Linked DNA regions of Homo sapiens: regions 2 and 3 are each linked to region 1. The links come from fine-mapping of genetic effects on gene expression. A gene starts in region 1. Each other region holds a variant in brackets. All regions are shown on one strand. Distances are from middle to middle. Region 1 holds the start of ANKRD27 (ankyrin repeat domain 27). Region 2 overlaps SLC7A9 (solute carrier family 7 member 9). Region 3 overlaps ANKRD27 (ankyrin repeat domain 27).

Evidence for each region. PIP is the estimated chance that this variant, and not a neighbour inherited with it, causes the effect.
Region 2: its variant is fine-mapped to the expression of ANKRD27 in whole blood (INTERVAL, PIP above 0.99).
Region 3: its variant is fine-mapped to the expression of ANKRD27 in whole blood (TOPMed, PIP above 0.99). The same link has a PIP of 0.9 or more in blood mononuclear cells.

What each region holds. Positions count from the first base shown.
Region 1 is chr19:32,670,787-32,678,941 of GRCh38, reverse strand. ANKRD27 (ankyrin repeat domain 27) reads left to right here and starts at 3,762. Exons shown (of 29, transcript NM_032139.3): 1 at 3,762-3,871. RGS9BP (regulator of G protein signaling 9 binding protein) reads right to left here and starts at 3,094. Exons shown (of 1, transcript NM_207391.3): 1 at 642-3,094. The coding sequence starts at 2,678. The coding sequence ends at 1,971. RefSeq lists enhancers at 2,398-2,447, 3,218-3,327, 3,215-3,834 and silencers at 2,848-2,907, 3,478-4,207, 4,228-4,277.
Region 2 is chr19:32,851,904-32,860,083 of GRCh38, reverse strand. It overlaps SLC7A9 (solute carrier family 7 member 9), which reads left to right. Exons shown (of 13, transcript NM_014270.5): 8 at 120-243; 9 at 1,541-1,644. Among named protein-coding and RNA genes, the nearest start is that of SLC7A9, 14 kb to the left of the region's middle. The variant A/G (reference allele first, on the strand shown) is at 4,552.
Region 3 is chr19:32,592,699-32,600,878 of GRCh38, reverse strand. ANKRD27 (ankyrin repeat domain 27) reads left to right here. Exons shown (of 29, transcript NM_032139.3): 27 at 829-907; 28 at 1,103-1,175; 29 at 2,501-3,873. The coding sequence ends at 2,734. Among named protein-coding and RNA genes, the nearest start is that of SNORA68B, 12 kb to the left of the region's middle. RefSeq lists enhancers at 7,181-7,680, 6,691-7,890, 7,681-8,180. The variant T/C (reference allele first, on the strand shown) is at 3,744.

The sequences.
Region 1 (8,155 bases):
ATTTGGCAGCACTGCTCAGGCAGATGTCATCCTGGGACCAAGGACCAAGCATTTTCTTACTTGTTGATCAAAAGAATTAAAGGCCACTTAACATTCTGTCATTTACACTTGTGTGGCTACTCAAGAATATAGATTTTATTTTGCAGTGAAATTATAGAAAAAAATAAAGAATATTGATTTTAGACTGAGCATAGTAGCTTATGCCTGTAGTCCCAGTACTTTGGGAGGCCTAGGTGGGAGGACCACTTGAGGCCAGGAGTTTGAGACCAGCCTGGGCAACATAGCCCAACTCTGTCTCTACAAAAAATTAGTTGAGTGCCGTGATGCACACCTTTAGTCCCAGCTACTTGGGAGGGTGAGGTGGGAGGAGAGCTTGAGCCCAGGAGTTCAAGGCTGTGGTTTGCTGATTGCGCCCCTGCACTCCAGCCTGGGCGACACCACAAGATCCTATCTCTAAAGAAAAATAAAAATAAATAAATAAATTAACTGCCTTAAAAACATTAGCCAGGTGCGGTGGCACACACCTGTAGTTCCAGCTACTCAGGAGGCTGAAGTAGGAGGATAGTTTGAGCCCGAGATTTGGAGGCTGCAGTGAGCCACAATCACACCATTGCACTCCAGCCTGGGTGACAGAGGGAGACCCTGTCTCAAAAAAGAAAAAAGTGGGGGGGGGGGAAGACTATCAACTTCAGAAGTAGATGAAATATATATTTAGTAATCTAAGTATCTACATAAAGATACTATGTTTGACTCATTGGCAGGTATGAGTTCATGGCCCAGCGTTCTTTATTAAAATAACAGCTTTCATAGTACACGCTGTGGTTACGTCATTTTTCTTTCAGAGTATTATTACCTTTTAAAAGCTTCTTAAATCCCAAGTTAAAGCTGTTACATTCTAACCCAGTCTCAGAGCTGATTGGCTCAAAACCTCTGTGGGCCAGTAATGCCACATTACCCCGGAGGGGCGGGCAGCGCGGGGGTCAGGGAGCTGCCAAAGCCAGCCCTCCTACTGGCCAGCACGCACATTCCAGGGGATAAATAGGATTAAGTGCTCTAAAGAGGATTCCCAGCCCTCCTGCAAAGGAGGTTCAAACACTCTGGTCTAGTTCTGAACAAAAATAAGCCCCAGAGAAGGAGAAAGTGCCTGTTTAAACACCAGGTGGCCCTACCCCAAGCCTCTGCTCTTCCTCTTACCCCCATCTCCGGGTGGCTGGGGAGAGCCCTTTTCCGCAGGCAAGTGTGCGCACTGGATCCAAGTCCGTGAGAGTAGGTTCAACCCACCCTCTTTGGTTTCCTAAATAGGGTCAGCCCCTGAGCGGCAGTGGGAGGTCATGACCTCAAATCTCTTCTAGCTGCTCTTGGGGACGAATGGATAAACTCTGCTAGGAAGGGCTGTAGCGCGTCTTAGAGAAAGCCCTTTGTATGAACTGCTCTCGGGACACTCTCCTAAATTTAGGCCCTGAAAGATTAAGGTAATAAAAGCTGCTGACATTTGATTGCAATTTTTCTTGTCCGGGAAACAGACCAACCACATAGAACCAAACAGCGTCCCTCTCCAAACTTCACTCCACCCCACCCACCTTTTCAAACTGTCCCACGCAGAAAGGGGGCGACGCTGGCAGGGGTGGGCACCGAACTCGGACTCCCTGTAAAGACGCCCCAACAGCACATGTGTTAACTCATTAACTCGGAGGGATCTAGGGTCACTGTGACGGTTTTCTATTAATAGGGAATAAAGCTCCTGCAGACGTTAGCGGTAATGCCCTGACGGCCGGCGCAAAGTTAACTCCTCCCGGGCCAGCAAGAGGAAACCGTGTCCTGCCCAGGCAGATGTGCACTGGAAACGCGCGTGTACCCATGCACACACGGGGTTTTAGGACCACTCCCCTTGCACAGGCCAGACCCCACACCCATCCCGAGTCTTTTCTCAGGGGAGGGAGCGGCAGCAGCAGGCGGCCGTCGGGTGTCCGTCAGCTCAGCTTCGCCACGCACACGGCTAGGGCCACAGCCGCCAGCAGCACGGCGCCGAAAAGGATGGCGGCCAGGGCCTTCCTGGGGTCGCAACCCCCCCCGCGCTCCTGCAAGGACACGACCGAGGAGGGGCCGGCGCTGACCGTGGACAGGAGCTCGGCGCCCGCCGCCTGCCGGGCTTGCACGGTCCAGCGGGGCACGTTGACCTTCATCTCCATGTTGTCGATCATCTCGCCCACCTGAAGGACCTCGCGCTCCAGCTCCCGCAGGTCCGCGACGTCGAAGTCGCCCTCCGCCTCGAGCCGCAGGCTGCGGGTGCTCAGCGCGCGCGCCGCCACGCCGGAGGAGGCGCCAGCCACACCTGTGCGCACCAGCGGCCGCCGCGGCGCGTGCAGCGGGAACGCGGCGCCCAGCTCCAGCGCGCGTCGCATGTCCGCTTCCAGCAGGTCCAGGCAGCCCGAGAAGGCCACCCAGAGCCGCTCGAACTCGGCGCGCTCGTCGGCGGCCAGGCCCCGGTCGCGCAGCACAGCAGTCAGCCGGGCGCAGGTGGACACCGCCAGCTCCTGCGCCTTCTGGCGCGTCTTTTGCAGCTCCTGCCGCAGGTTCTGCGAGTCCGCCGAGCCACCGACGGTCAGCACCAGGTGGTGGTAGCACGCAGTCGTCTTGTTGAGCCCGTCCAGCAGCGCCTTGCACTCCTCCCTCGCCATCGCGGTGGGCTCCGGCTGGGCCCGGCCGCCCGCGCCCGTTAGCCTCCCCCTCAGCGCGGCAGGATGTGGCTAACCCCCATCCCGGCCTTGGGCCGCGCGGCACGAACGCTCTTCATGGTCCGTGACTCGCTCGGCGCTACCGCCAACGTCCACGGAGCCCGCCCGGGACCCTCGACGTGCGCCTCTGCGGACGGGGCGCGCAGAGGGAGCCCCGTTAGCGGTCCCCCGCTCCCTCGTCCATCCTCCCCAGGCGCACTCCGAGTCACACGTCGTGTCTCTGCACCGCCCTGGCCTCCACGGTGGCTCCCTGCGAAGCTGAGGGTGCGGTCCCCATCCTCCGTGGGTGCCAACTCCGGGGCAAGCAGGCTGCAGAGCCGCGCGCTCCGCCTTAGGCGCTGCCAAGGGCGGCCGGGTAGGGTTTCCTAGGACCCGCCCACCCCGCTCGTCCCGGCCGGAGCTGCCACCCCCTGGATCAGTGGTAGGCGGGGCTCCACGCGGGGAGGTCACGTGTGGGTGGCCCATCCCTCCCTCCCCTTCGCCCCATCCGAGTTCTGGAATGTTAGCGCTCGGGAGATCCAACCCGTTCTATTTTACGGATGGGGAAACTGAGGCCCAGGTAAAAAGCGGGCCAGGCTCCCGCGGAGTTTTTGCCTGTGATGGGACTAGAACCCAGCTATACTGACTCCCGGACCCTGTCGGCGACAGGACGTCGGGTGCCCCGCAGGACTGGGCACCTCCGTGCCCCAAAGCGAGCAGTGACTGGCAATCCGAGGGGCTGGGCGCCGCCGGGGTCAGGTGTCCCTGCCGCGTTGCGCTCACGTTGGTCGGTGCTTCCAAGCGCTAACCCCACCTCTAGTGTCAGCCCGGCTCCCAGCCCCGCCCCTCACGTTCTGGGCACGCGCAGTTGCGGGCGTGGGGCGGGGCCAGCTGGAGTAGGAAGCGTAGGGAGCCGCCTGAGCCCCGCCCCCGGCTGGGCTGGACTCCATGATTGCTCTGCGTACACGTCACTCTGGGAAACGACGGTTTCTCATTGGGTCAGCTGTGGCGCGGCTCCGCCCCACGGCGGAGTAAGGGGTGGGCTATAGGGCCAGATCGCCGCGCGAGGGTGGTGGGCATCGAGGTCCCAGCAGCGGACGAGGGAGGTGCCGCCGTCGCCCAGGATGGGCTGGGAATGAAGCGATGTAGCCTTTTAAGTAAGTGTCCTCGCGCTGGCCTCCTCCTGCGCCTCCCCTCCCGCGGGATGGCTGCGCCTCGGGGCGCGGCGGCCGGGCGGGGCCCGGAGAGTGAGGGGGGAGGGGCTCCCTGCTCTCCGGAGTCCGCTCCCGGGTCCGCCAGGTGGCCCCGCGCCGCCCCAGCCCCCGCGTCCCCAGGTGGGTGCCCGGTGCGCAGCCGGCGCGCCCTGCCCACTCCGCCCCTCGGGTCTGGAGGAGGGGAGCGGTCGGCGCGGAGAATGCACCCTCCGAGCCTCGCTGCGTCGACACCGGCGGGTGTGGCCGGGGTGCCGGGTCCGGCGGTTCGGATCTGGCGGGGCGCGGGGCGGTCGCCGCGCGGTTTCCCGGAGGCCTAGGGTCTGCTGGAGGGGAGCGGCGGGTGGGGGTCCGAGCCGCGCGCGCAGCGGTTGTGGTTTCCGGGGGGTGATGAGGGCGCGGAGCGGGGAATCCCTGGCTGCCGGCCTCTCGCAGGGCGGGGGGGTCTCTGCATTCCCACAGGTAAAGATTGTTAAAGGAAAACTCTTAAGCACCGAGAGATGTTCCGGATTCTGAGTCTGTTCCGTCTTGTGGTTGAAAATGGACTGCCCAGGAGCACACGAGCCACGCGGTGCCCCCTTGGCTGCCCCACGAGGTGCAGGGGACGTGGGCACTCGCGGCCTGTGCTGGGCGAGGGAGCAAGGGACGGGTCTTCGCTGAGGATTTAGAGCATGCAGGGAACGAGGGCTGCTGGCAGTGCTGGAGGGACTGTGAGGCTGCAGAGAGCTCAGATTTTACAAGTTGATGGGTTTCATGGATAGAGGCCCCTATTTTGATTAAAAAATGCACTCTTCCCACTGGCCGAAGAGTAGAGCAGTGGATATTTTTTTTCTTTTCTTTCTTTTCGTTTTTTTCTTTTTGAGACAGGGTCTGGCTCTGTTGGCTAGTCTGGAGTGCAGTGATGCCATCATAGCTCATTGCAGCCTCAAACTCCTGGACTCAAGCAATCCTTTCACCTCAGCCTCTGTAGTAGCTGGGACTACAGGCGCATGCCACTATGCACGGCTAATTTTTAATTTTTTTTTTTTTTTTTTGTAGAGATGGAGTCTAGCAGGTTGCCTAGGCTGGTCTTGAACTCCTGGACTCAAGCCATGCTCTCGTCTTGGCCTCCCAAGGTGTTGGGATTACAGGCACTAGCCACCACGTTTTGCTGAGCAGTAGCTGTTACGTTTCGAGATCAGCCTGGCATGAGGACTGGTGTTGAGGTGGCCTAAGGGTCCGGTGTACTGAGCCCCGGGGCCTGCTGTCACCCAGGGGTCCGTCCTTTAACTGGGTGAGCAGTAGGCTGGGTGTTTGCTGCCAGGGCTTGGGTACTCCTGGCCTTGACCATTGTGTGGAAGGGGGGTTCTCAGCCACCCACACGCTACATAGGGTCGTTCCCAGGGGGATAGTAGTTTTCAGGACAAAATGGGTGGAAAGAGGGAAAATACTCTTTCCCTTCGGGGGAAGCTTTGGAGACAGCAGAGGGTGAGGAAGCTGCAAAGGTGGCCAGAGGCCAGATGTGCCAGGTCCTGAGCACCTAGCAGAGAAGTTGAGGGCTCACCTGGTGGGGAGTGCAGGGGAATCCTTTGAGGAATCCTGCAGAGCTCGGCGCTGGAAAGATCGCTTTGTTGTGTTGCTGGTGGACAGGCGTGAGTGAAATCCAGGGGGCAGATCCAGGAGGCACAGCCCGTAGGCCTTGGAAGGAGGGGATGCAGGATGGGAGCAGGAGCAGAGACTTCTTCTGACCAGCCATAGGGACAGGAATGCACCTGGGGATCTGACATTGGATAGACTTACATTCCCAAGTTACACCCAGTCTTGCCTGGTGACCTGAAATAATCTTGGCCGGCAGCTTCCCTGGGAGGGCAGGCAGAGGTGTCTGCAGAGGGCCGGGGGTTAGGGTCTCCGTTGTGCCTCTTTGTGACTGTTAGACTGTGTCTCCCTCACCAAGACAGCTGCTGGGTCTTTGTTAGTGATGTTTCTGTGTCCCAGTTAAGGTTTCTGTGGCATCTGCCCTGCTGGGGCTCTTCCTGTCTGTCATTTGCCAGCATTAGGTTGGTGTCCAATGACTCCATCCTCTCATAGAGGAGTGGAGGAATGTGACCATGTCATGATAGGTACCAATCCTAGAAAGGATTCAGCCCAGAAGGATCCAGACTTGATTTGTCCTGAGGTTGATTCTCCATCTGAGGAACACTGAGAAGCGGCCCTAGAGCTCCTGCCCATCTGCCCAAGATACTGGTGGAGGGTGCATGGTGGTTCTTCTCCCTGTGGTCCGGGAACAGGGTGATGCGGTGGCATTCGGAGGGGCTGTTGTGCTCCTCCAAACTTTCCCGCTCCCTGCATGGTCCCGCCCTGGTTCCAGTCCTGGCTTCTCTCTAGCCCTGCCCATTCCAGCTATCACTGTGTTGGGCTGGCACTGAGCATCCTGATTGTTTTGGGCTTTTTGCCTTTGTGCTTGCTTGGCTATGACCTGGGGTTAGCCCCTCACCTACCCTGGATATGGACAGTGGAGTTCCAGCTCTTGTGAGAGATGACCTCTCCCTGGGAGCTGGGGCTTCCTCTTAATGCCCCACTATCGTTTTGTTCAAGTGGGTGAGCAGTTACTCCATCTCTGCAGGGAACCAGGCGCAGGGCTGGGTGCTTTAATGAGAAGCTTTGAGAAGAATATGGACAGGATCTCTAAATGTTATAGGTCAGGAGGACACAAGTGACTGTAACAGCATACATACATCACCACATTGCTTCCATTGGTGTGAAAAATAGATGAATAGAAAGTTTTCGTTTTTCGCCTTTTCCTTCTGAATCATAAATTAGACCAAATGGAGAATACTGCTTATCTGTTGGGAAGCGTTCCTGGTCAGAGTGTTTGGTCAGAGCCCCGGAAGGGCGGGAACGGCCATCGCAGTGAGATTTCAGCAGGGAGTGCATCTCTAAGGAGGCTGAATTCCCCCATGCTGAATTCTGCTGAGCTGGGCTGCACGCTGTCACCAGACGGTTCTTGACCACCCAGACTTATCTGGGCTAGCAGGACGGTTGAAGACCACAAAACCACGAGTGTGCACGCTGCTCCCTGAAATACTAGTTTGAGGCCTCACATGGCTCTCCTGTTCATAGAATAACTGCAGATAACTCACATTTAGAGGTATTTGGTATCTCCAGCTAACTCAACTGGATTTTCTGTACATTTTCCCATCATTTGAGCCCAGGCAGGGATGGAATTTTTTAAAAGAAGTTTTATAAGAAGATTCACTTATCTTTCCAGTTTTACAAGAAAAAGTCCATTTTCTTTGCATGTTATTTTAAAATAGCAAACTAATTCTTTTGTTTGTTTTGTTTTTGAGATAGGTCTCACTCTGTTGCCCAGGCTGGAGTGCAGTGGCCCGATCTCGGCTCACTGCAACCTCCACCTCCCAGGTTCAAGAGATTCTCGTGCCTCAGCCTCCCAAGTAGCTGGGATTATAGGTGTGGGCCACCACAACCAGCTAATTGTATTTTTAGTAGAGACGGGGTTTTACCATGTTGGCCAGGCTGGTCTGAAACTCCTGACCTCCAGTGATCCACCCGCTTTGGCCTCCCAAAATGCTGGGATTACAGGTGTGAGCCACTGTGCCCAGCCAGCAAACTAATTCTTGCAGGTAAACTTGACAGGGTATAAAACTGTTTTTTTAAGCATTTACCCTTATGTAAGAATTCAACTCTGGCATTAAGCACCAGATCATATGAGATTATTACTTTTTTTTTTTGGAGACAGGGTCTTCCTCTGTCGCCTAGGCTAGAGTGCAGTGGTGCAGTCATAACTCATTGCAGCCTTGACCTCTTGGGCTCAAGTGATCCTCTGGCCTCAGCCTCCCCTGGCTGGGTGTGTGCCACCATACCCATAGATAATTTTTTGATTTTCCTGTAGAGACAGGGTCTCACTTTGTTGCTCAGGCTGGTCTTGAACTCCTGGGCTCAATCATCTGTCAGCCTCAGCCTCCCAAAGTGCTGAGATTACAGGTGTGAGCCACTGCACCTGGCATATTACAGATTTTTTTTTGTCATTTTTTGAAATGGAGTCTCACTCCGTTACACAGACTGGAGTGCAATGGTGTGATCTTGGCTCACTGCAACCTCCACTTCCCAGGTTCAAGTGATTCTTCTGCCTCAGCCTCCCTAGTGGCTGGGATTATAGGTGCCCATGCCTGGCTAATTTTTGTATTTTTAGTAGAGACAGGGTTTCACCATGTTGGCCAGGCTGGTCTTGAA
Region 2 (8,180 bases), 180 kb before region 1:
TTCCTGCTGGGCCTCTGCTACCTGCGAATCTTCTCCCTGGGAGGGCCTCAGGGAGGGCGTCCATCTTCCGCGGGAGGCTGTGGTCTGAACGTGGGTCTCCGTGTCATTGCCCCTCCCAGAAACCTGCCTTTGGCCATTATCATCGGGATCCCCCTGGTGACGGCGTGCTACATCCTCATGAACGTGTCCTACTTCACCGTGATGACTGCCACCGAACTCCTGCAGTCCCAGGCGGTGGCTGTGGTGAGTGCCCGGGCATCGCTGCTGGCGGGGGCTGTGGCTTGTGGGAAGGGGTAAGGCAGGTGTCAGCACTGGAGGTGAGCTCCCTCCCAGGGAAGGAGGGCGATATTCACGGACGGGGACATGGACTGGGCACGCACGGCATGGAGCTGGAGGCAGGGCCGGGCTAGCCAGGGTGAGGGTTCGGCAGGCAAGCATGAAGCAGAGGCAGAAAGTGCCAGGGAGTCGGGGGAGGTCATTATATTAGGTCATTATATATTAAAAAATATATATATTTTTGGCAAAACTGGCAATTACTTTTGCACCACCCTAAATAATAATGAATCATAGAAGGTGAGAGGTGAGAGGCATTGGGGTCAGTGAAGAGGTGGCTGGGGGCCTCCTGCAGTTGCAAACAGACAACCACGTGTTGGGGATTTGGAAGGTGGAGGAGACGCAGTTTGGATAAGTGTTGAGGTCACTGACCACAAGACTGGGGGCTGCTGAGGTGGGAGGGAGAATTCAGCCATTCCGGTTGGAGTGGGGGTTCAGGGAAGTGAGAGGTGAAGGTGTCAGGATATTGAAATGACCAAGAATTACGCAGCTGGGTGTGGTGGCGAGTGCCTGTGGTCTCAGCTACTTAGAAGACTGAGGCAAGGATCACTTGAGCCCAGGAGATTGAGGCTACAGTGAGACGTGATCACGCCACTACACTCCAGCCTGGGCGACAGAGCAAGATCCTGTCTCCAAAAAAAATCAAATTAAAAAATAAAGATTTGGCCAGGCATGGTGGCTCATGCCTGTAATCCCAGCACTTTGGGAGGCCGAGATGGGTGGATCGCAAGGTCAGGAGATTGAGACCAGCCTGGCCAACGTGGTGAAATCCCGTCTCTACTAAAAATACAAAAATTAGCTGAATGTGGTGGCATGCGCCTGTAATCCCAGCTACTTGGGAGGCTGAGGCACGAGCATCGCTTGACCCTGGGAGGCAGAGGTTGCAGTGAGCCGAGACAGCAACATTGCACTCCAGCCTGGGCAATAAGAGCAAAGCTCCATCTCAGAAATAAATAAATAAATAAATAAATAAATAAATAAAGATTTATGCCAGGGAGTAGTAGATAAGAGACTTCTCTTGCCATCACAATATCTGGAGATAGGCGAGTGGCGTTCTCCTCTCTCCTCTGCAGTGGAGGAGTCAGAGGCTGTGCCCCGAGGCGAGGTGGGTCCCTGGGTCCCCTGGGAGGCCAGAATAGCTTTTGGGGGCCGGCCGCTCTTGGAGGCCAAGAAAGACCCTCAGGACTCATCTCGCTTCTCTCACCAGACATTTGGTGACCGTGTTCTCTATCCTGCTTCTTGGATCGTTCCACTTTTTGTGGCATTTTCAACCATCGGTGCTGCTAACGGGACCTGCTTCACAGCGGGCAGGTAGGGGACCCCCACCGTCACTCCCAGGGTGGACAGGGGCGGCGAAAGCAATATCACCCCCGAGGAAGACACACAGCTAAAATCCTCAGGGTTCTGCCAGGCGAAACCCACGCCAGTACAAGTAGGAGACCCAAATCCAGAGAAGGGATGTAGCTTGAACCCACACCGCAAACTGGCCAGGAAGGCATGGATGGGCCTGCACACGGGAATTGATCAAGGCTGCCTGGAATCTCAGCCTTTCCACTCCAGGGGGCCCTAGTTCCCAACATGGGGGGGAAGCTGCCCATGCTGAGGCGAAGGGAAGCGACACCGCGTGAATGAGGCACTGGTTTTCCACGTGGCACTTTTTACCTTTTCACCTAGTGATATTTTTCACATAGTGATATTTCCTGAACATCTTCCCCATGTTAATATATACAAACTAATTTGCTAATTAGCAAATTAATAAATAACCCAGAATTGGCTAACTTTCCCTTAAAGGGCCAGATGGTAAATATTCCAGGCTCGCAGGCTGCATAAACCTCTGTCACAGATTCTCAACTCTGCCTTGGTACCCAAGAGTGAACAGCCATGGTCATGTTCCAATAAAACTTTATTTGCCCAAACAGCTGTGGTTTGCCAATCCTTTAGACCCATCTGGTCTAGAGACTGCCACCAGCTGTGTTGTATCACACTTTCAGATGTAGCATAACTTAACAAATCCTTCACTCACACCTGGGTGTGGGTGGTTTCCATGAACGTTGCCGCAGTGAACATCCTCGAACACGTGTCTTGGCTTAGTTGTCCAGTGTTCTGAATGGATATATTTCAGAGTGAAATTGACAAAGTCTGTGTATGTTAAAAAATGAAATACCATAAAATCATTCTTCTAAAGCCAAACCGAAATACATGTAGTGCTAGGCCTCCAACTTCATTCTTTGTCAAAAGCGTTTTGGCTAGATCCTTTGTATTTCTTTATAAATTTTAAATTTAAATTTTAATTAACTAATTAATTTTGAGGCAAGGTCTCACTCTGTCGCCCAGGCTGGAGCACACTGGCATGATCTTGGCTCACTGTAGCCTCTACCTCCTGGGCTCAAGCAATCCTCCCTCCTCAGCCTCTGGAATAGCTGGGACCACAGGCACGTGCCATCACACCCAGCTAACTTTTGTATTCTTAGTCAAGATGGGGTTTCACCATGTTGCCCAGGCCCATTTCGAACTCCTGGCTCAAGTGATCCTCCTGCCTCCACTTCCCAAAGCCCTGGAATTACAGGCATGAGCTATCGTGCCCAGCCTTATATTATTTTTGAGATGGAGTCTTGCTCTGTCACCCAGGCTGGAGTGCAGTGGTGTGATCTCGCCTCACTGCAGTCTCCGCCTCCCTAGTTCAAGCAATTTTCTGCCTCAGCCTCTGGAGTAGCTGGGATTACAGGCACCTGCCATCATGCCTGGCTAATTTTTGTATTTTTAGTAGAGACGGAGTTTCACCATCTTGGCCAAGCTGGTCTTGAACTCCTGACCTCGTGATCCACCTGCCTCAGCCTCCCAAAGTGTTGGGATTACAGGTGTGAGCCACCACACCCGGCCGCCTTATTTTAAATTGACAAATAATAATTGCTTATATGGGCTGAGGCAGGAGGATTGCTTGAGGCCAGGAGTTCGAGACTAGTCTGGGCCACATGGTGAGACTCCGTCTCTACAAAAAGAAATTTAAAAATTAGCTGGGTGTAGAGGCCCATGCCTGTAGTTCCAGAAGCCCAGAAGTTCCAGGCTGCAGTGGGCCACGATCACACCACTGCACTCCTGCCTGGGTAACAGAGTAAGACCCTGCCTCTAAAAAATAACAACAATAATTGCATATATGTATGTGGTACAGTGTGATGTTTCAATACATGTAAACATTGTGGAATGGCATATGTATCACCTCACATACTTCTTTATGCTGAGAACATTAAAAATTCACTGGCTGGGCATGGTGGCTCACGCCTGTAATCCCAGCACTTTGGGAGGCCGAGGCGGGCAGATCACGAGGTCAGGAGATCGAGACCATCTTGCCTAACATGGTGAAACCCTATCTCTACTAAAATTACCAAAAATTAGCTGTGCGTGGTGGCGGGCGCCTGTAGTCCTAGCTACTTGGGAGGCTGAGGAAGGAGAATGGCGTGAACCCAGGAGGCAGAGCTTACAGTGAGCCAAGATCACGCCACTGCACTCCAGCCTGGGCAACAGAGCAAGACTCCGTCTCAGAAAAAAAAAAAAAAACCACTAGCTATTTTGAAATATACACTATTACTAACAATAGTCACCTTGCTGTGCAGTAGATCACCAGAGCTTATTCCTCCCATCATACTGAAACTCTGTAGCCTTTGACCAACATTTCCCCTTTTGCCATCCCAGGCCCCTCTTCCTTCAGCCTCTGGTAACCAGCATTCTACTCTCTATTGCTATGTTTGAATTTTTAGATTTCATGTATGTTGCAGATGATTACAACTATCTGGGCTGGTGGTACAGGGATAAGAAGAATTTACCAAGACAGCTGTAGGTCAGGAAAGGCAGATTTATTACAGAAAGTAGGAAAATACATTGCAAGGGTGCAATGAGCAGGTCAGCAAGAGAGGAACTGACTGCAAAGAGACAAAGGCTTGCTGGGGATTTTGTAGGATGGTGCTTGTGCTGTGTGCTGGACAGGGGTACGTGCAGTACTGATAATGCCAAGGTTGCAGTGAGCTAACTTGCATTTTTCTATTTTTTTTTTTGAGACGGAGTCTTGCTCTGTCACCCAGGCTGGAGTGCAGTGGCATGATCTCGGCTCACTGCAAGCTCCACCTCCCAGGTTCACGCCATTCTCCTGCCTCAGCCTCCTGAGTAGCTGGGACTACAGGTGCCTGCCATCACGCCCGGCTAATTTTTTTTTGTATTTTTAGT[A/G]GAGATGGGGTTTCACCGTGTTTGCCAGGATGGTCTTGATCTCCTGACCTCGTGATCCGCCCGCCTTGGCCTCCCAAAGTGCTGGGATTACAGGCGTGAGCCACCGCGCCCGGCTGCATTTTTCTATTAGCTGAGGGACTGGCGATCACTGGGCACAGGAAGCTTGTAAGTTATTTGTGCAGGGGGGCTATGTGTCCTGGACCATGAAGAAAGGCGGGCTTGTAGCTTATCTGTCTTATCTCTTTTGGCTTTCCCTTGGTCCCACCAGCCTGACTCATTTTCCCTAATTAGGACTCCATAATACATAAGGGAGATCATGGGATATTTGTCTTTCTGTGTCTGGCTTATTTCACTTAGCATAATGTTCTCTAGAGTCATCTCTGTTGTCAAAAGATGACAGAATTCCATTCTCTTTAGAGTCGGAATAGTATTCCATTGTGTATCTATTACATTATTTTTATTCATTCATCTGTGATGGACACTTAGGTTGTGTCCATGTCTTGGCTGTGGTGAATAACGTTGTAATGAACATGGGAGTGCAGACACCTGACATGTGGATTTCAATTCATTCAAATATATACCCAGAGGTACATAGGAGTGCAGGTATCTGGCATATGATTTCAATTCATTCAAATATATACCCAAGGCCAGGTGCAGTGGCTCACGCCTGTAATCCCAGCACTTTGGGAGGCCGAGGTGGGTGGATCACATGAGGTCAGGAGTTCGAGACCAAACTGGCCAACATGGTGAAACCCTGTCTCTACTAAAAATACAAAAATTAGTGGGGCATGGTGGCAGATGCCTGTAATTCCAGCTACTCAGGAGGCTGAGGCAGGAGAATTGCTTGACCCGGGAAGCAGAGGTTGCAGTGAGCCGAGATCGCACCAGTGCACTCCAGCCTGGGCGACACAGTGAGATACTCCGTCTCAAAAACAACAACAACAAAAAATCATTGCCCAGACCAATGTTACAGAGCTTGCCTGTTTTCTCCTAGGAATTTTACAGTTTCAAGTCTTATATCCATTTTGAGTAGATTTCTTGTCTAAGGGGTGAGATAAGGGTCCAATTTCATTCTGGCAGCTTTCCCACTTGCATATGAATATTACAATCAGCTTGCCAGTTTCTATAGTAAAGCTGTTGGGATTTTGATCAGGACTGGGTTGAATCCATAGATCAACTGGGGGAAGACTCTGCTGTCTTAAAAGTACTGAGTCTTCCAGCATGGGTACGGTGGCTCACACCTGTAATCAAAGCACTTTGGGAGGCCGAGGGGGAGGACTGCTTGAGCCCATGGGTTAGAGACCAGCCTAGGCAACATAGTGAGACCCCATGTCTACAAAAAGTACAATAGACTTAGCCAGGCATGGTGGCACATGCCTGTGGTCCCAGCTACTCAGGAGACTGAGGTGGGAGGATCGTGTGAGCCCAGGAGGTCGAGGCTGCAGTGAGCTGAGATTGCACCACTGCACTGCACTCCAGCCTGGGAGACAGAGTGAGACCTTGTCTCCAAAAAAAAAAAAAATACTGAGTCTTCCAATCCATGGGTGGACTATTTAGGTCTTTAATCTTGTTTTAACAACTTTTTTGTTTGTTGGTGTTTTTTTTTTTTTTTTTTTGAGACAGGATCTTGCTTTGTCACCCAGGCTGGAATGCAGTGACACGATCCTGGCTCACTGCAACATCTGCCTCCCAGGTTCAAGCGATTCTCATGCCTCAGCCTCCCAAGTAGCTGGGATTACAGGCATATACCATCACACCTGGCTAATTTTTGTATTTTTAGTAGAGACAGGGTTTCACCATGTTGCCCAGGTTGGTCTTAAACTCCTGGCCTCAAGTGATCCACCTGCCTCAGCCTCCCAAAGTGTTGGGATTACAGGCGTGAGCCACTGGGCCTGGCTTAATTTTCTGTAAAAAAAAGTTTTTTGAGTAGTTTTTGGTATATAGTTCTTGCACATCTTTTGTCAAATTTATTCCAAAGAATTTCATTTTTCATACTATTGTAAATGGTACTGTTAAAAAAAAGTTGCTTAATTTTTAGTTTCTGATAGTTTATTGCTAGTATACACAAACACAATTTTAACAGTTCTAATTAAGGTACAAATATAAAACTCACCCTTTGTAATTATACAACTCAATTATTTTCATAAATTTATAAGGCTGTACAAACATCACAATCCAATTCTAGATCATTTCCATCACCCCAAAAAGTTTCCTCATTGCCTAATTAATCCCTGCTTTCACCCGCAGCTCCAGGCAACCACTAATCTACTTCTGTCTCTATAACTGCTTTTTCTTGACATTTCATCTAAATGGAATGACATGGGCCAGGCGTGGTGGCTCACGCCTGTAATCCCAGCACTTTGGAAGGCCGAAGTGGGTGGATCACTTAAAGTCAGGAGTTCAAGACCAGCCTGGCCAACATGGTGAAACCCTGTCTCTACTAAAAGTACAAAAATTAGCCGGACGTGGTGGGCGCCTATAATCCCAGCTACTCAGGAGGCTGAGGCAGGAGAATGGCTTGAACCTGGGGGACGGAGGTTGCAGTGAGCCGAGATTGCACCATTGCACTCCAGCCTGGGTGACAGAGCGAGACTCCGTCTCTCAAAAAAAAAAAAAAAAAAAAAAAAGTTTATAGCTTTGGTCTTGTAAAATCTGGCAGGACTAACGCTCCCACGTCAGACTTCTCCTTGTCTGTTTAGCATTCCCTATACACTTAGAATTATTTTGTCCGGTTCCAAAAGTACTGCTTGCATTCTGATTTTATGGAATTTCTATATTAATTTCTGGAGGACTGATAAAAAGATTTGACAGTATTCACCTTGTGTCTAAATCTCCCTTCCATTAATCAACTCCCATCCTCCTGGTTTCACTTCTTTTGGGAATTAATATCAAGTTCATATCAATTCAAAGTTAAGATATGTAGTTGTAAATAGATGGGTCTTTGTGGCATTTGTATTGACTTCTAATTTTACTGCACTGTAATTAGAGTATGTGACCTTTATGATATCAAGTCTTGATTTAGGGTTTTTGTTCGTCGTTTTGAGACAGGGTCTCGCTGTCGCCCAGGCTGGAGTGTGGTGGTGCAATCATGGCTCACTGCAGCCTCAGACCCCTCCCTGTGCTTAAGTGATCCTCCCACCTCAGCCTCTCAAGTAGCTGGGACCACAGGCACGTGCCACCATGCATGGCTAATATTAAGTTTTTTGTAGATGTGAGGTCTTACTATGTTGCCCAAGCTGGTCTCAAACTCCCGGCCTCAAGCAATCCACCCACTTCAACCTCCCAAAGTGCTGGGATTACAGGTGTAAGGCACAGTGGCTGGCCTGATATCAATTCTTCTTTTTTTTTAATTTTATTATTATTACACTTTAAGTTTTAGGGTACATGTGCACAATGTGCAGGTTTGTTACATATGTATACATGTGCCATGTTGGTGTGCTGCACCCATTAACTCGTCATTTTAACGTTAGGTATATCTCCTAATGCTATCCCTCCCCGCTCCCCCCACCCCACAACAGTCCCCGGAGTGTGATGTTCCCCTTCCTGTGTCCATGTGTTCTCATTGTTCAATTCCCACCTATGAGTGAGAACATGCGGTGTTTGGTTTTTTGTCCTTGCAATAGTTTGCT
Region 3 (8,180 bases), 78 kb after region 1:
ATTTACAATATGAAATATTATCCAGTGAGGTATGCAATAATGCAATACAATAATATGGATAAACCCATTCACATATCTCGATAACCCTGAGACTGTCTCACCGTAATTGGTTGTGGCTGGGGGAGTTAAGGGAGTTAAGGTTTTATTTTTCTATTTCATGGGGGTTCTCATAATACAGGCTGACTACCCCCTATCTCAAATGCTTGGGACCAGCAGTGTTTTGGGTTTTGGAATATTTGCATTATACTCATTGGTTGAGGATCCAAATCAGGAAATCAGATTCTTCTGAGCATGAAGTCAAAGAGTTCAAAATGTCTCGGATTTTGTAGCTTTTTTTTGAGATGGAGTCTTGCTCTGTCGCCCAGGCTGGAGTGTGGTGGTGCAATCTCGGCTCACTGCAACCTCTGCCTCCTGGGTTCAAGCGAGTCTCCTGCCTCAGCCTCTTGAGTAGCTGGGATTATAGGTGCGTGCCACCACGCCTGGCTAAGTTTTTGTATTTTGGGTAGAGATGGGGTTTCTCCATGTTGCCCAGGCTGGTCTTGAACTCCTGACCTCAAGTGATATGCCCACCTCGGCCTCCCAAACTGCTGGGATTACAGGCATGAGCCACTGCACCCAGCCTGTGGCATTTTAGGCTTTAGATTTTTGGATTGGAGATACTCAACCTGTTATAAATAGGTACTAGCTGTGTTTCTTTAAGCAAATTCAGTGCTTCAGTTTCTAAATTTTGTAAATCTGAGAATAGAAAGATTGTGTCTGTGCTGTAATTTTAAAATAATCTTTACAACTGTTTTTGAAGTTTTTAGATGTTTATCTTTTTATCTACAGGGAACTCAAAACTGTATGATCTACCAGATGAGCCTTTTACAAGACAGTTTTACTTTGTCCACTCAGCTGGTCAGTTTAAGTGAGTATGAAACTCAAGTTGATTTCTGTGCTTTTGCCCCTAGTTTACTCCAAGCTGCACGTAAGCTGCTTCAATTGTAATTGGTTATGGACAAATCTGCACCTACTAATGTCAAAAATGCTGCCACCTTGTGGCCAACCAGAGTGTTTCATGCCACTGTCCCAAATATTTATTTTCGTTTATTTTGGGTTTTAGGGGAAAGACTTCAAGGGAGATTATGGCAAGAGATAGAAGTGTCCCTAATTTAACCGAAGGTTCTTTGCATGAGGTAAGTTATTAAACACTGGCTTTTAATCATATTTTCTAAAGCCCGGCTTTGTCAAAAGTAATCCATGGTAAACACGTCTCCTTGATCGTCATCTTCATTATTCCGTGCGCCGTATGAGTTAGCAGCAGTTAAAACTGGAATTATTTCATGGGACAGTGTAGAGTACAGACTTCACTGATTGTTATAACTAAAAGTACATTTCTGAGCAGAGGAGTGGAAAGTGTTACATGTGTGGGAAACCACAGGTCTTGGTGCTTATAGGAGATGAAACATCCCACATTTCACTATGGTTTTAATCACCAAAGAAAGAAAACGACAGTTTGTATATAGATGGGTAAATGATGTCTCCAAGTATGGTGTACAGTTGCTCAGACAATTCTTTATGTGGCCATCTTCCCACTACATTTTTTTATTTATTTATTTGAGACAGAGTCTTGCTCTGTGGCCCAGGCTGGAGTGCAGTGGCACGATCTCGGCTCACTGCAGTCTCCACCTCCCGGGTTCAAGCATTCTCCCGCCTCAGCCTCCTGAGTAGCTGGGATTACAGGCATGTGCCACTATTCCTGGCTAATTTTTTTGTATTTTTAGTAGAGACGCAGTTTCACCACGTTGGCCAGGCTGGTCTTGAACTCCTGACCTCAAGTGATCTGCCCGCTTTGGCCTCCCAGTGTGCTGGGATTACAAGTGTGAGCCACCGTGCCCGGACCCTACTGCATTTTTAAATCACTCAGAAGCTTGATTGAAAACCTGTGATCGGAGACAGTGATTCTTCTCAGAACCACAGCTTTCCTTGTTGCTGATGAGAATTTATAGCATATGTAGCATAGGCTTGTTGGAACAAATACACAAAAGTTCTAAATTGTTTTAGATAATTAAAATGATTTTAATTAACATGACTAATTTTGATACCATATTTAGTCTTATGTGGTGTTGCTAGGAGACCTGCTGCTTTGTGGGAAAGCCAGAATCGTTGAAATCTGCCTGAGTTCCATCAAGTGCTAGCTTTTCCCTTGCTAGCTGTAGGACTTTAGGCAGGTGGCTTAACTTTGCTGATCCTGTTTCCTCAGGTGTAAAACGGGGATAACAATAGTAGTACATGCCTCCTAGAGTCATAAAGATTGTGAAAACAAGTGAAACATTTACTCTGACACATGTAGTATGCACATGCCATGTTACCACGACAGGGATGTGAGAATTGAAATTATGCCTGTCAAGCACTGAGCACATTATGTGACACTAGGCACTAAGGGGCAGCTGTCACTGTCATGGTTGTGGCTTCCAGTACAGTGAGGACGTCAACGGTTAAAAATGTACTTTTTCTTTAGCCAGGGAGGCAAAGTGTCACACTGAGACAGAATAACCTGCCAGCTCAGAGTGGATCTCATGCTGCTGAGAAAGGCAACAGCGACTGGCCAGAGAGGCCTGGACTGACACAGACTGGCCCTGGACACAGACGGATGCTGCGGAGACACACGGTAGAGGATGCGGTCGTGTCCCAGGGCCCGGAGGCTGCTGGCCCCCTCTCCACTCCCCAAGAGGTTAGTGCTTCCCGGTCCTAACAGGAATGAGGAGTTGTTGAACCCACTGCTAGGAAGCAAGGATGCAACAAGATGATGCTGAGCGTGAACACATCTGAGAACTAAATGTGCTTCCATGAGACTGGCTTGAGAAGTCTTCAGCACCAAGTTCCTGAAAGCTTTTCTGTGGCAGGAAAGAATGCAACAAAAAAGTTAACCACCACCATCTCTCTCCTCTTCAAAGCTAATGAATACAATTGAAACAGACAAAAATTCCAGTAGCATCCAGATCCTTAAGCCAGAGGTGCATGCTTCTTTTTAAGTATGAGGGTTTGTTGGTCACAGTGGGAGAGGTTTCACCACCGCATTCTGACCTCCTCCTCCCAAAAGGTGCTAAACCTCTCTGACCTGTGTACATTCACAAACCACAGCTAGAATTCCTCCACCTAGGATTAAGCTGGAGAGAAGTAAGTAATTTAGGTTTCATGGTACTGTAGAGGCCAGGCTGAAATGTCATATCTGAAGGAAGAAAGCAGCAGCTGGACAATGTTTCTTTGCAAAGCAACACTCGAACCAAAAGATGCCTCAATCCCATTTTGATATTCATTTTAGTGAAAGGATGCATCAGACCTGTTCCACATCATGCACATGGGAAAGGGTGGTTATCATTTTCCTTCTAACAAGTAGGTACAGATATTCGGTTACTACACGTGCACCTGTAGCAGTATTTCTAGAAACATCCCTTTTTGTTGAGAACCTCCCTTGAATGTCTGTCACACTCACACCTGACGGGATGGTTACTGGATTAGAGAGTAGATTTGGCACATCTTTTCTTAGTCTTTTGATTCAAATTCAAAACTTAACAGCACAAACCAGGTCAGAGTTACTTTCGGTTAGAATTTATTGCCATTTATTCCTTTTTATAAATTTCTATAGATTATACTGTTATTTTTATGTTATTGGCCTAGAGCTACACGTATATGGGTTTGTCCTGAGTCCGTTTTCAAATGACCTTGTGATAGGGAAATGGTTTTGTCCATGTTCTTGGAAA[T/C]ACTTGTGTATGTACAGAAGGAAGGGAGGGATTATTTTTCTACAAAGTAATTTATGATTTCTAATTTTCTAATGTGCCTTGGATATGTGCCAAATGATGGAAAAGAAACAGTAAACTTTATGATTCTTGACTGTGTCATGGTATTTTTTTTTAGTTGTTTGGCTGCAGATGATATGTTTCTCAGCCTGTCTGCTGTAAACATGTGCTTTGTGTGTGAGAAAAAGGGTCCCCATTGAATGGATATACATTTTTCAGTTATAGATGTGAGATTGAAACATGGGAACTTGATCACTTAGCTCATTATTCATCTACTGACCAAGGCCTACTTAACCCAGTAGGCACAGTGTCCCGGGCCCACAAAAATGTTTTTCTTTGGAAATCAGAAGAATAAAATGAATACAGCTTCCTACCCCAAACAAACAGGAAATGAGCCCTGTTGCTTTGCTAATTTCTTTGTTCTGATTTTTCCTTTTCCCTTTTTTTTTTTTTTTTGAGATGGAGTCTCGCTCTGTCACCCAGGCTGGAGTGCAGTGGCACCATCTCGGCTCACTGCAGCCTCCGCCTCCCAGGTTCAAGCAATTCTTCTGCCTCAGCCTCCTGAGTAGCTGGGACTATAGGAACCCACCACCATGCCCGGCTAGTGTTTTTTTTGTTTTTGTTTTTTTGTTTTTGTATTTTTAGTAGAGACAGGGTTTTTCACCGTGTTAGCCAGGATGGTCTCAATCTCCTGACCTCGTGATCCGCCCGCCTCGGCCTCCCAAAGTGCTGGGATTACAGGTGTGAGCCACCATGCCCAGCCTTCCCTACTTTTAAACAAAACCACCTTATAGACTGAAGCTGCTGTGGTTCTATACCATCCTAATTAATACATCCTATACAGTTTATCAGCACAGGTATTCTCAAGATACAAATACACACATTTGACACCACCTAATATGTTGGGGTAGTGCAATATAATTTTGAAAACATTTTCTTGAGATGATGGAGTCTCGCTCTGTCACCCAGGCTGGAGTGCAGTGGCACCATCTCGGCTCACTGCAGCCTCTGCCTCCCAGATTCAAGCAATTCTCCTGCCTCAGCCTCCCGCATAGCTGGGATTACAGGTACCTGCCACCATCCATGCCTGGCTAATTTTTATATCTTTGGTAGAGATGGGGTTTCACCATGTTGGCCAGGCTGGTCTTGAACTCCTGACCTCAAGTGATCTGCCCACATTGGCCTCCCGAAGTGCTGGGATTGCAGGCATGAGCGACTGCGCCCAGCTGAAAACATTTTCACATATACCCATTTAATTTCAACAATCACTGTGAATGGTAGAATTGTCAAATGAGGAAACAGGTTCAGAAAAATAAGGGGACTGCGAGGGATCTCACAGCCAGGATCAAGGCCTGGTTGGCAGTGGCAGCTGCAAGCTTGGTGTACCCTTCCTCTGGAGAGGTAAATGCTGTTTCTTTTTGAGCTATTCTGGTCATCAGTAATGTTTTCCATCTTAAGTGACTCCCTCGATTATTTTTAAAAAACAGTTGTCATCCTGGCCAACATGGTGAAACCCTGTCTATACTAAAAGTACAAAAATTAGCTGGGTGTGGTGGCGTGCGCTTGTAATCCCAGCTACTTGGGATGCTGAGGCAGGAGAATTGCTTGAACCTGGGAGAGAGGTTGCAGTGAGCCAAGATCATGCCACTGCACTCCAGCCTGGCAACAGAGCAATACTCCATCTCAAAAAAAAGCAAACAACCAGTTGTTTTTTCCAATTGCTTTCCCTACCCAAAACTTGATGTGACAGTTGAGAAATTAATGCCCCTAATTTCCATTTTTGTGGAAAAAAGTTTTGAATTCAAAGTAACGCAAGTTCACTGATTTAAATTAGAAAGTTTAGAATAACCACTCTCCACTCCCTAAAATGTACTCCAGCCTCTTATTGCCATCAGGAACCTCTCTCCTTGTACATGGAACCACTTTTCACTCTCAGGTAGGTGTCTGAAAGAGTCTGACCATCTTTAAACACACTCACAGCAGTTGCCATTAGGACAGTGGTTATCCTGTGAGAAAGCACAGAACTTGTGAACTGCCTCATGTCCTCCTAGCATTTGTATGTAAATGAGGCCTAAAGCAAAATTTACCTGTAAATGGGATTTTTTTCAAAATCCCCGACCAAATTTTTTTTAAATTACCAGTTTACCCTGACAGAAAATCCCCAGCCAGATTTCATCTTATGATCATTCTTTTAAAAATATGTTGATGTTCTCAACGGTTCTACTTATTTATAATGTTAGATATTGTTCTATTTCTTCACTGACAATAGTTGCAAATTTCAAATATAGTAGAATCTCCAGTTTAAACATGTATCAGTAGTATGCTGGCTAACGCAGAGACTGGGGTTTGCAAACCACATTTCCCTTCATTTTTTTACTAATCCTATTCACCTTGTTAAATTTATGAATTTAATCCTGTGCTAGGTCTCACAGGACTACGACATTTAAAAGGTTACACCAAACAGCTGGTTGATGGTTAAGTTTATGATTTAAATATATGAGCAGTGGCTTGCACCTACAGTCTCAGCTACGAGGGAGGCTGAGGTGGGAAGATCAGTTAAACTCAGGAGTTTGAGGCCAGCCTCAGCAACACAGCAAGTCTCCGTCTCTGAAAACCGTAACTTATGAGTGCAGGTTTTCATAACCTAGTGGAAAGAAAGCACAACAAAAGAGAGAACATTTAAGTCACCTGCAACATTATCAGTGATATGTTACCAAAATGTTTAAATGCTGAAGTGTCTCAACTGGATTTGAAATCATTAGAAGTCATTTCTCTTACAAACATGTTTATTACTGTAGTAGCATTACCAACATGTCTATTTTGGTCATTTTCTTTTTCAGTCATTATCACTCTAGTTATTTTGGAGGGAGTGGTATTTGTTAATATCAGTACCTCTGAAAAACAATTATAAATGAGATCAAAGCTAGCTTTTTTTTTTCTTTGAGATGGAATCACCCAGGTTGGAGTGCAATGGCCTGATCTCAGCTCACTGCAACCTCTGCCTACCAGGTTCGAGCCTCCCAAGTAGCTGGGATTACAGGTGTGTGCCACCACGCCCAGCTAATTTTTATATTTTTAGTAGAGACAGGGTTTCACCATGTTGGCCAGGCTGGTCTCAAACTCCCGACCTCAAATGACCTGCCAGCCTCAGCCTCCCAAAGTGCTGGGATCACAGGTGTTAGCCACTGTGCCTGGCAAAGCTAGGAATTTTCTTACATTAAGTGGAAGTAGTATCTGCAGGAAGAGAAAGAGCTTACCTGCTTTCAGAATCTACATCTTAGAATATTAGATGTGCTCAAATGTTGAACCTGATTCAGTCTGATGGACAGGTTTTAATTCCCCTTATGTTATTGGCGGCTGCTGCTGCTGCTGCTATATTTTTCTTCCTGAAGAGTGCTGGAGCAGCTTCTGTTTCCGCCACGGACACTTTTCCTATCTAATATTCATGGCACAGTTGCAAAGGGTAGAGTCATGCTGGTACACGTGCTTAAAAGCTTTTGGTCAGGGAGGAGCCAAGATGGCCGAATAGGAACAGCTCTGGTCTACAGCTCCCAGCGTGAGCAACGCAGAAGATGGGTGATTTCAGCATTTCCATCTGAGGTACCGGGTTCATCTCACTAGGGAGTGCCAGACGGTGCAGGTCAGTGGGTGCAGCCCACCGTGCGCTAGCCGAAGCAGGGCGAGGCATTGCCTCACTCGGGAAGCACAAGGGGTCAGGGAGTTCCCTTTCCTAGTCAAAGAAAGGGGTGACAGACGGCACCTGGAAAATCGGGTCACTCCCACCCAAATACTGCGCCTTTTCCAACGGGCTTAAAAAACGGCGCACCAGATTATATCCCGCACCTGGCTCGGAGGGTCCTACGCCCACAGAGTCTCGCTGACTGCAAGGCGGCAGCGAGGCTGGGGGAGGGGCGCCCGCCATTGCCCAGGCTTGCTTAGGTAAACAAAGCAGCCTGGAAGCTCGAACTGGGTGGAGCCCACCACAGCTCAAGGAGGCCTGCCTGCCTCAGTAGGCTCCACCTCTGGGGGCAGGGCACAGACAAACAAAAAGACAGCGGTAACCTCTGCAGACTTAAATGTCCCTGTCTGACAGCTTTGAAGAGAGCAGTGGTTCTCCCAGCACGCAGCTGGAGATCTGAGAATGGGCAGACTGCCTCCTCAAGTGGATCCCTGACTCCTGACCCGCCTAACTGGGAGGCACCCCCCAGTAGGGGCAGACTGACACTTCACACGGCCAGGTACTCTGAGACAAAACTTCCTGAGGAATGATCAGACAACAGCATTCGCGGTTCATGAAAAACCGCTGTTCTGCAAACACCACTGCTGATACCCAGGCAAACAGGGTCTGGAGTGGACCTCTAGCAAACTCCAACAGACCTGCAGCTGAGGGTCCTGTTAGAA